Linked DNA regions of Homo sapiens. The protein of the gene in region 2 purifies or fractionates together with the protein of the main gene of each other region. This does not show direct contact. Each region holds a gene or a part of one and is shown on either strand. Other genes may lie near its edges.

Evidence for each region.
Region 1: the proteins of FAM200C (region 2) and BMAL2 purify together in Homo sapiens (affinity purification with mass spectrometry; 2 studies listed by BioGRID and IntAct, with this or other methods). This does not show direct contact.

Annotation. Positions count from the first base shown.
Region 1 is NC_000012.12:27,402,336-27,405,835, forward strand, and holds part of BMAL2 (basic helix-loop-helix ARNT-like protein 2), read left to right. Parts: intron 1-283; coding exon 284-342; intron 343-1,097; coding exon 1,098-1,206; intron 1,207-3,500. UniProt on the Homo sapiens protein: Transcriptional activator which forms a core component of the circadian clock.
Region 2 is NC_000005.10:160,393,462-160,397,949, forward strand, and holds part of FAM200C (protein FAM200C), read right to left. Parts: intron 4,055-4,488; exon of another isoform or gene 3,981-4,054; intron 2,079-3,980; 5' UTR 2,030-2,078; coding exon 245-2,029; 3' UTR 1-244.

The sequences.
Region 1 (3,500 bases), on a different chromosome or scaffold from region 2:
CTGTCACCCATCCCAGTAGTCTTTGCCTACTTATTATTAGTACAGGAACTGAGAGTTTGTTATTGTGAGAACACATACTTTATAGAGGAATGGGGCATTTGGCAAACACCATGATACTTAGCACATTAAGACCTTGATTTCTGGTGGTGATACTAACAATATGTGTATATAAAACATAAATGGGCCACAAATTGACAAATTAAATATACAGATCTTAGTGTAGTTGCTATAACAGTTTCCTTCACCTTAGAAAGTAAATCACCTATGGTGTTTTTAATTCTAGGGGACATAGTGAGCCTGGAGAAGCATCATTTTTACCTTGTAGCTCTCAATCATCAGAAGGTAAGCTTACTTTTAGATGATGGAAGACTTATTACTAAGACATATTATTAAGACTATTACTATCTTTTTCTGTCCTGGAGAGGGGAAAATTTGAAGGTGAAATTAAAAGTAGTTCTGCAGGTTGGGTTATAGGAATCCCAACTTTGGTTTAGAAGAGACTAAATTCAACGGGAAATAGATATCCCATTTAAACTCCCAGAGGTATCACCATGTCCCCCTCAAAATTCCCACAGTGCTTTGCTCACTTTTCTGTTATAATCTTGCATTATACTGCAATTAGTTGTTCATTCAACTTGCTTTCCAGTAGACAGTTCTTTAAGGCAGGAATGATGTTTTATCCATTTTTCAGCCCTAGCAGCTAACATTGTTCCTTGTCAATTGTGACACTCTTGGACAAATTAACGAAAAGTATTGGGGGAGTTTTTGCTTATCTGTGTGAGTTTTTCACCACAGGAATATATTAATGTATTATTTGTAAAAATAAAAATCTTAGGAAACATTGAAGTAGTATTGCTGTGGAGATTAAAGTGGCAAGAGACTGGAGTCAAGGGTTACTAGTCACAATTGTGCCCTCAGTGACTCTACACATTTGATTCAAAGAGCATCATGAATTACATATGTAATGCAAGGATGAGTGTTTTCCAACTTTTTTGGATGCAGCTAGTCTGTTTCTTTTAAGGAGAGAACTGTGAAATTATTTGAATTGAAAGAAAGATAAAGTCCTCAACTGAATTTCTCCTTTTGCTGTTACTTAGAATCCTCTAGACAGTCCTGTATGAGTGTACCTGGAATGTCTACTGGAACAGTACTTGGTGCTGGTAGTATTGGAACAGATATTGCAAATGAAATTCTGGATTTACAGAGGTAATGTTTTATTGCTGCAAATATTTTCAAAAGTAAAAATATCATATTTATAAAATCAATATACAAAAATCAGTAGCCTTCCTATATACAAATGATAACCAGTTTAATATAATGGAAAATATTATCTTTACAGTAGCAACAAAAAGATATAAATTTTATAAGAAATATTCATACCAACATGAAAAAAAACTTTAAAATTCACAAAGATATATAAAAAGATAACTCATATAACTTCAGATATAAGCTGTTTTTCAACAGGAAGGCAGAATTGTAAGAATTGTCCTGTTCCTTAAACTAGCCTGTGAATTTAATGTGGATCTAGTCAAAATACCACCGTGTGGCCAGGCATGGTGGGTCATGCCTGTAATCCTAGCACTTGGGGAGGCCGAGGCAGATGGATTGCTTGAGTCTAGAAATTTGAGACAAGCCTGGGCAACATGGCAAAACCTCATCTCTACAAAAAAAAAAAAATTAGCTGGATGTGGTGGTGCACGCCTATAGTCCCAGCTACTTGGGAGGCTAAGGTGGGAGGATCACTAGAGTGGGGTGGAGGGAGAGGGGCTGGTGGGGCAGTGTCAAGGCTGTAGTCAGCTGTGATCCTGCCACTTACTCCAGTCTAGGCAAAAGAGCAAGACCCTGTCTCAAAAAAAAAAAAAAAAAAATACCACCATGCATTTTTTTTTTTTGGAATCCAACAGATTATACTAATCACATTAAAATATCTAGAAATTTATGAAAAATAATAGTAATAAAGTGAGACTAATGCTGTCAGATATTAAAATACGTTATAAAGCTACAACCACTAAAACATTTTAGTGCAACCCACAAATAGATCAATGTAAAAGATTATATTTCAGAAATACAATCAAATGCACATGCAAATTTATTATATGGTAAAAATTAAAAATGACACCTTAAATCAGTAGGTAGAAATGAATTAAACATTAAAGGGCATTATGATAACTGTATAACCATTTGGGGAAAAAATAAAGCTAGACTCCAACTTTATTCTTTACACTAAAATAAATTACAGATAAATCAGAGTTCAAAGTAGAACTATAAAACTAAAGCTTTTCGGGTGGAGCCAAGATGGCCGAATAGGAACAGCTCCAGTCTACAGCTCCCAGCATGAGCGACACAGAAGACGGGTGCTTTCTGCATTTCCAGCTGAGGTACTGGGTTCATCTCACTGGGGATTGTTGGACAGTGGGTGCAGGACAGTGGGTGCAGCGCACCAAGCGTGAGCCGAAGCAGGGTGAGGCATCGCCTCACCCGGAAAGCGCAAGGGGTCAGGGAATTCCCTTTCCTAGTCAAAGGGGTGACAGATGGGCACCTGGAAAATCGGGTCACTCCCACCCTAACACTGCACTTTTCCAATGGTCTTAGCAAGCAGCACACCAGGAGATTATATCCCATGCCTGGCTCGGAGGGTCCTACACCCACGGAGCCTCGCTCATTGCTAGCACAGCAGTCTGAGATCAAACTGCAAGGCGGCAGCGAGGCTGGGGGAGGGGTGCCCACCATTGCCGAGGCTTGAGTAGGTAAACAAAGCAGCCGGGAAGCTCGAACTGGTTGGAGCCCACCGCAGCTCAAGGAAGCCTGCCTGCCTCTGTAGACTCCATCTCTGGGGGCAGGGCATAGCCAAACAAAAGGCAGCAGAAAACTCTGCAGACTTAAATGTCCCTGTCTGACAGCTTGGAAGACAGTAGTGGTTCTCCCAGCACACAGCTGGAGATCTGAGAATGGACAGACTGCCTCCTCAAGTGGGTCCCTGACCCCTGAGTAGCCTAACTGGGAGGCACCCCCCAGTAGGGGAAGACTGACACCTCACACGGCCAGGTACTCCTCTGAGACAAAACTTCCAGAGGAACGATCAGGCAGCAACAATTGCTGTTCACCAATATCCGCTGTTCTGCAGCCTCCGCTGCTGATACCCAGGCAAACAAGGTCTGGAGTGGACCTTCAGCAAACTCCAACACACCTGCAGCTGAGGGTCCTGACTGTTAGAGGGAAAACTAACAAACAGAAAGGACATCCACACCAAAACTCCATCTGTACGTCACCATCATCAAAGACCAAAGGTAGATAAAACCACAAAGATGGGGAAAAAACAGAGCAGAAAAACTGGAAACTCTAAAAATCAGAGCGCCTTTCCTCCTTCAAAGGAACGCAGCTCCTTACCAGCAATGGAACAAAGCTGGACAGAGAATGAGTTTGATGAGAGAAGAAGGCTTCAGATGATCAAACTACTCCGAGCTAAAGGAGGAAGTTTGAACCCATGGCAAAGAAGTTAA
Region 2 (4,488 bases):
GAACAGGTTAAACAGATACTTAGAATTGGGAAAATCTCATGATAGCAACTAGGCAGTAGTACTTAATCTTTTCTGCTGTGTTTTTATTCTCAAAACATATTTTCACATGCCTCATTCAAAATTAAAGTTCTTAAGTTTTTTAGACATAGAATTCAGTATATCATAAATATGAAAGAGACAGAATTACAGCTTAATTTTACAATGATATTAAGATTGAAATTATTCATTAAAAAAGTATATCAGCTTACAGTGACTTCTGCTGTAGCTGTAGCTTTTGTTCAATGATGTCCGAGAAACGAGGAACTTTTTTTGAAATAGCCACACGGATATCATCACTCAGATTAAAGCAGCTTCTGGACTTTGTTTTGAAATGTAAAAGTGATGAAAATCCCAACTCACAAAGGTATGTAGTTGCAAATGGCATAAGGATTTCTAGAGCTGTCTTTGCCAGGTTTGGAAATGCTGTGAATTGGGCACACCAGAAATCCTCAAGCTTCATTGTCTCAAATTCCATTAGGATTTGGCCACTAGCTCGTAATTCAGCAAGATCATTTTTCATTAAATAACTATCATCAACAAAATCGATATTAAAAAGAAATGGATCCAATATCCATTTACTTGCCTCATTAAGATCTCCAATGGAAAAATATCCATGGAAGAAGTTGCTCAATTGTTGCAGATGCAGTGTTATTTCAGCTGCAATGAATATGCCTTCATTATCTGAAACAATTATTTCTTCAAGAAAAGGAAAATTGGTAAAATTTCTTTTCTCAATTCGTTTTTGCCAAAATGGAAACTTCCTAACAAAAGCAGATAACTTCTCTCTAGCTGATACTGTGTTCATCCCAGTCCTCTGCATAGATGCACTGAGTTCATTTAAGTGTTTGAATAAATCTGCAAGGTATGCTAGGTGAATTTTAAACTCTTTATTTTCAAAGCCATCAACTAAATTACTGCTCTTGTGGTGAAGAAACTGATTTATTTCTTCATACATTTCAAAAATGTGAGTAAGTATTTGGCCTCGGGAAAGCCACCTCATTTCAGTATGGAAAAGGAGGACACTATATTCTATGCCAATTTCTTCAAAGAAAGCCTGAAATAGGCGATGATTTGGAGCTCTCCCTTTGATGAAATTTATTACCCTCACCACAGTAAACAGAGCATCCCTCAGTTTTGTAGGCAATGTCTTTATGACAAGTGCATGAGGATTCAATAAACAATGTGTAACTACGATATGAGGTATCTCTTTTTTCACGTAGGCAACAAACTCGGAATTTTCTCCTAGCATAGAGGAGGCACCATCAGTACAAACAGAGCCACATACATCAAGTGCTATCTTATGCTTCAGAAAGAAGTCTCTGAAGAGATTGAACACATCTATTCCTTTCATGGATAGCTGCAATGGTTCACAGAAGAGAAATTCTTCTACGATCTCTCTTTCTTTTATATAGCGCACAAATGCCATTAGCTGACTGCAGTCATCCATGTCAGTTGTCTCAGCAAGCTGAATACCCACTTTAAGAGGACTGGCTTTGATATCTTCTAGAACTTGCTGTAAGATATCCTGGCTCATTTCATCAATTCTAGAATGGATCACATCATCTGATAAGGGTACCTGCTGAAGCTTTTTTTGTGCATCTGGTCCCAAAACTATTTGTGCTATTTCCAGTGCACAAGGTTTCACTAACTTTTCAGCTACTGTATGAGGATTCTTCTCCTTGGCACATAAATACGCAAATTGATACGATGCTTGTAATAAAGTATCCTCATGAGATGCAACTCCAAATGCTTTCAAGGTTTCACTCTGATCAGATGGTGCTGGCATATGCTTCAGGCTATTGAGATCATGCCCAGCTACACCACCATGCTGTCTGTTAAAATGGTCTGACAGTTTTGATGGTCTGAGGTCAGCATTTGAAAATACTGAGTTACACAACACACACTGTGGACGCTGAGTTCCATCTACTTCCGTTGTACAGGTGAACCAGTAGCGAACATAGTCATCATCCCATTTGCGTTTCTTCGACATGGCACACAAAAATTCTCAGGTAGTATTCCAGAGATGCCACAGAATTTTGCTTTGGGAGTAAAATATAACCCACACATTAAAAACCAGTGGCTAACTGAATTAAAACAAAGCCACATCACATGCTATCTTGTATATGTCAAGATACAGCCTGCAGCATGTCAATTCGAAGTAAGCCATGACAGGATATAGTTCAACTTAAAGCTAGCAACTCATAGCTAATGCCCTGGAATAAATGATTTGCCAGCAAGTTATATATGGGAGATTTGAGCTTAGACAAGTTATGAACACCTGTAAGTCCTTTATTGGTGAATTATAGTTATGGCTTAACTTGTTTTCAATAATGTATGTTACAAACAAATCTAGCACATTTTGTATCCCTAGAAAGGGCATCTCACTACCACCACCTTCTTCCACTCAGCCCCAAAGATGTATGCATACCCTCAGTTAAGAATCACTGAATAAAGGAGCAATTCACTAAATAAGGAAGGGTGGATTCTGACATGGAGGTTAAAATAATTGTATACATTTATGGGGTACAAGCACAATTTTGTTATATGCATAGACCACATAGTGGCAAAGTGAGGGTTTTTAGGGTATCCGTCACCCAAATAACATACATTGTACTCATTATTTCTCATCTACTCCCTCCCACCCCACTCTTCCACCCCACCCTTCCAAGTCTCCTTTACCCATCACTCCATTATCCACGTCCATGTGTACACATTATTTAGCTACCATTTATGAGTGAGAACATGGTAGTTCTTTTTAATAGTTAAAGACTAAACAGGTCTGTAATACTATTTGAACCTTGAGCAGTTTTGACTCCAACTTAGGCAGAGAATTTCAAATAGGTCTTTAAGTCTGATTAAGCCACCCCTGATGCAAAGGTAGGCTACAAATTGGCTCAGAGCTTCCTTGCTGCTAAGTGTAACACACTATCAGTCCATGATTCATAGTGTCCATATAAAAAAGCAAAATGGTCGGGCGTGGTAGCTCATGCCTGTAATCCCAGCACTTTAGGAGGCTGAGGTGGGTGGACTGCCTGAGCTCAGGAGTTCGAGACCAGCCTGGGCAATATGGTGAAACCCCATCTCTACTAAAAATACAAAAAATTAGCTGGGCATGGTGGCATACGCCTGTAGTCCCAGCTACTAAGCCAAGATCATGCCACTGCACTCCAGCCTGGGCGACAGAGCAAGTCTCTGTGGAAAAAAAAAAAAAAAAAAAAAAGCAAAACAACTTGCTCAGGGGAAACACAACTATTCTTGTTACCGAGACTTCAGAAAAATCCCTCTCATAGGAGAACACTCTTAAGTAAAATAACGAATTTCATGATGCTTTTCCACCTAAATACCTCTAAGGGAAAGCAGTCAAGAACACACACATGCACATACACAAAATAAGCAGCATTCCTAAGGTTTGGTTTAACCCAAAGACAGGATGTAGAAGGCCCTACCCATAGAGATTCTGATTCTCCAGCTATGGAGTGGGGGCCTAGAATCTGTATTGTAAGTATTTTAGATAATTCTTATAAATAGTAACTAGAACAGTGATCTGTGACAAGAGACACCATATCATCACAATCACTGGGAAACCCTTTCAAAATATACACGTCCCTGCACTACCTTAGAACTAATACATATCTTCTCCAGAAGCAGAACAAAAGAATATGAAATAATGTTGTTCAGGCAGTCCTGAAACACAACCTGGTTAAGTAGTCAGGCTTAGGGGAATAAAAACGTATCCTTCAAACCAATCCTTAGCTAACAAATATTCTAGGTTTCTAAGTGAATGGTCCCAATGCTTTAATAGATATTTAAATTTTCTACATTTTCTGAGTTGATGACAGCCTCCTATGAAAGTTGAAACCTAAAATGAAAGCCATATCTTTTCTCTTTCTCTCCCTTTAGCAACGAGTAAAGGCATAATCCACAGGTAGGCTCAAATATACCTTAGAAAACATTCTATCTCCAAGATAAGTAAGTGATCCCCAAAGTTTCCAAAGTTCTGTGCCAGAGAATGTGGCTGAAATAAAGTAACAGGTACACATTTAAATCTGAATGCCCACTTTGGACATTAAAAGAAAAATCACAAGCCAAGAATATCCACTTAAAGCATTAGCTTTCAAGTGGATCTACCAAGATGAACTAGTTGTAAAGTGTACTCCAATAAAATAAGCTGAGCTGTTACAAGGTTGTTATGAGCCTGTTAAATTGGAGGATGTCTGCCAATCAAAAAAGACAACCTGAAGTTTAAAGAGCTGATCTTAAGACTTCTTTTGTCAAGTAATGAGACTACATGACCACTTTTGCTTAGAACCACTTCTAATTAATGACGATAAAATTATGACATTACCATAAATGCTTATTTTTCTGTATTCTATTAATGTATATTTATCATGTAATATTTGGGGAGGAAGAGGGAATAAAGGAAAATGTTTTTAGTCACATTAGAAATCA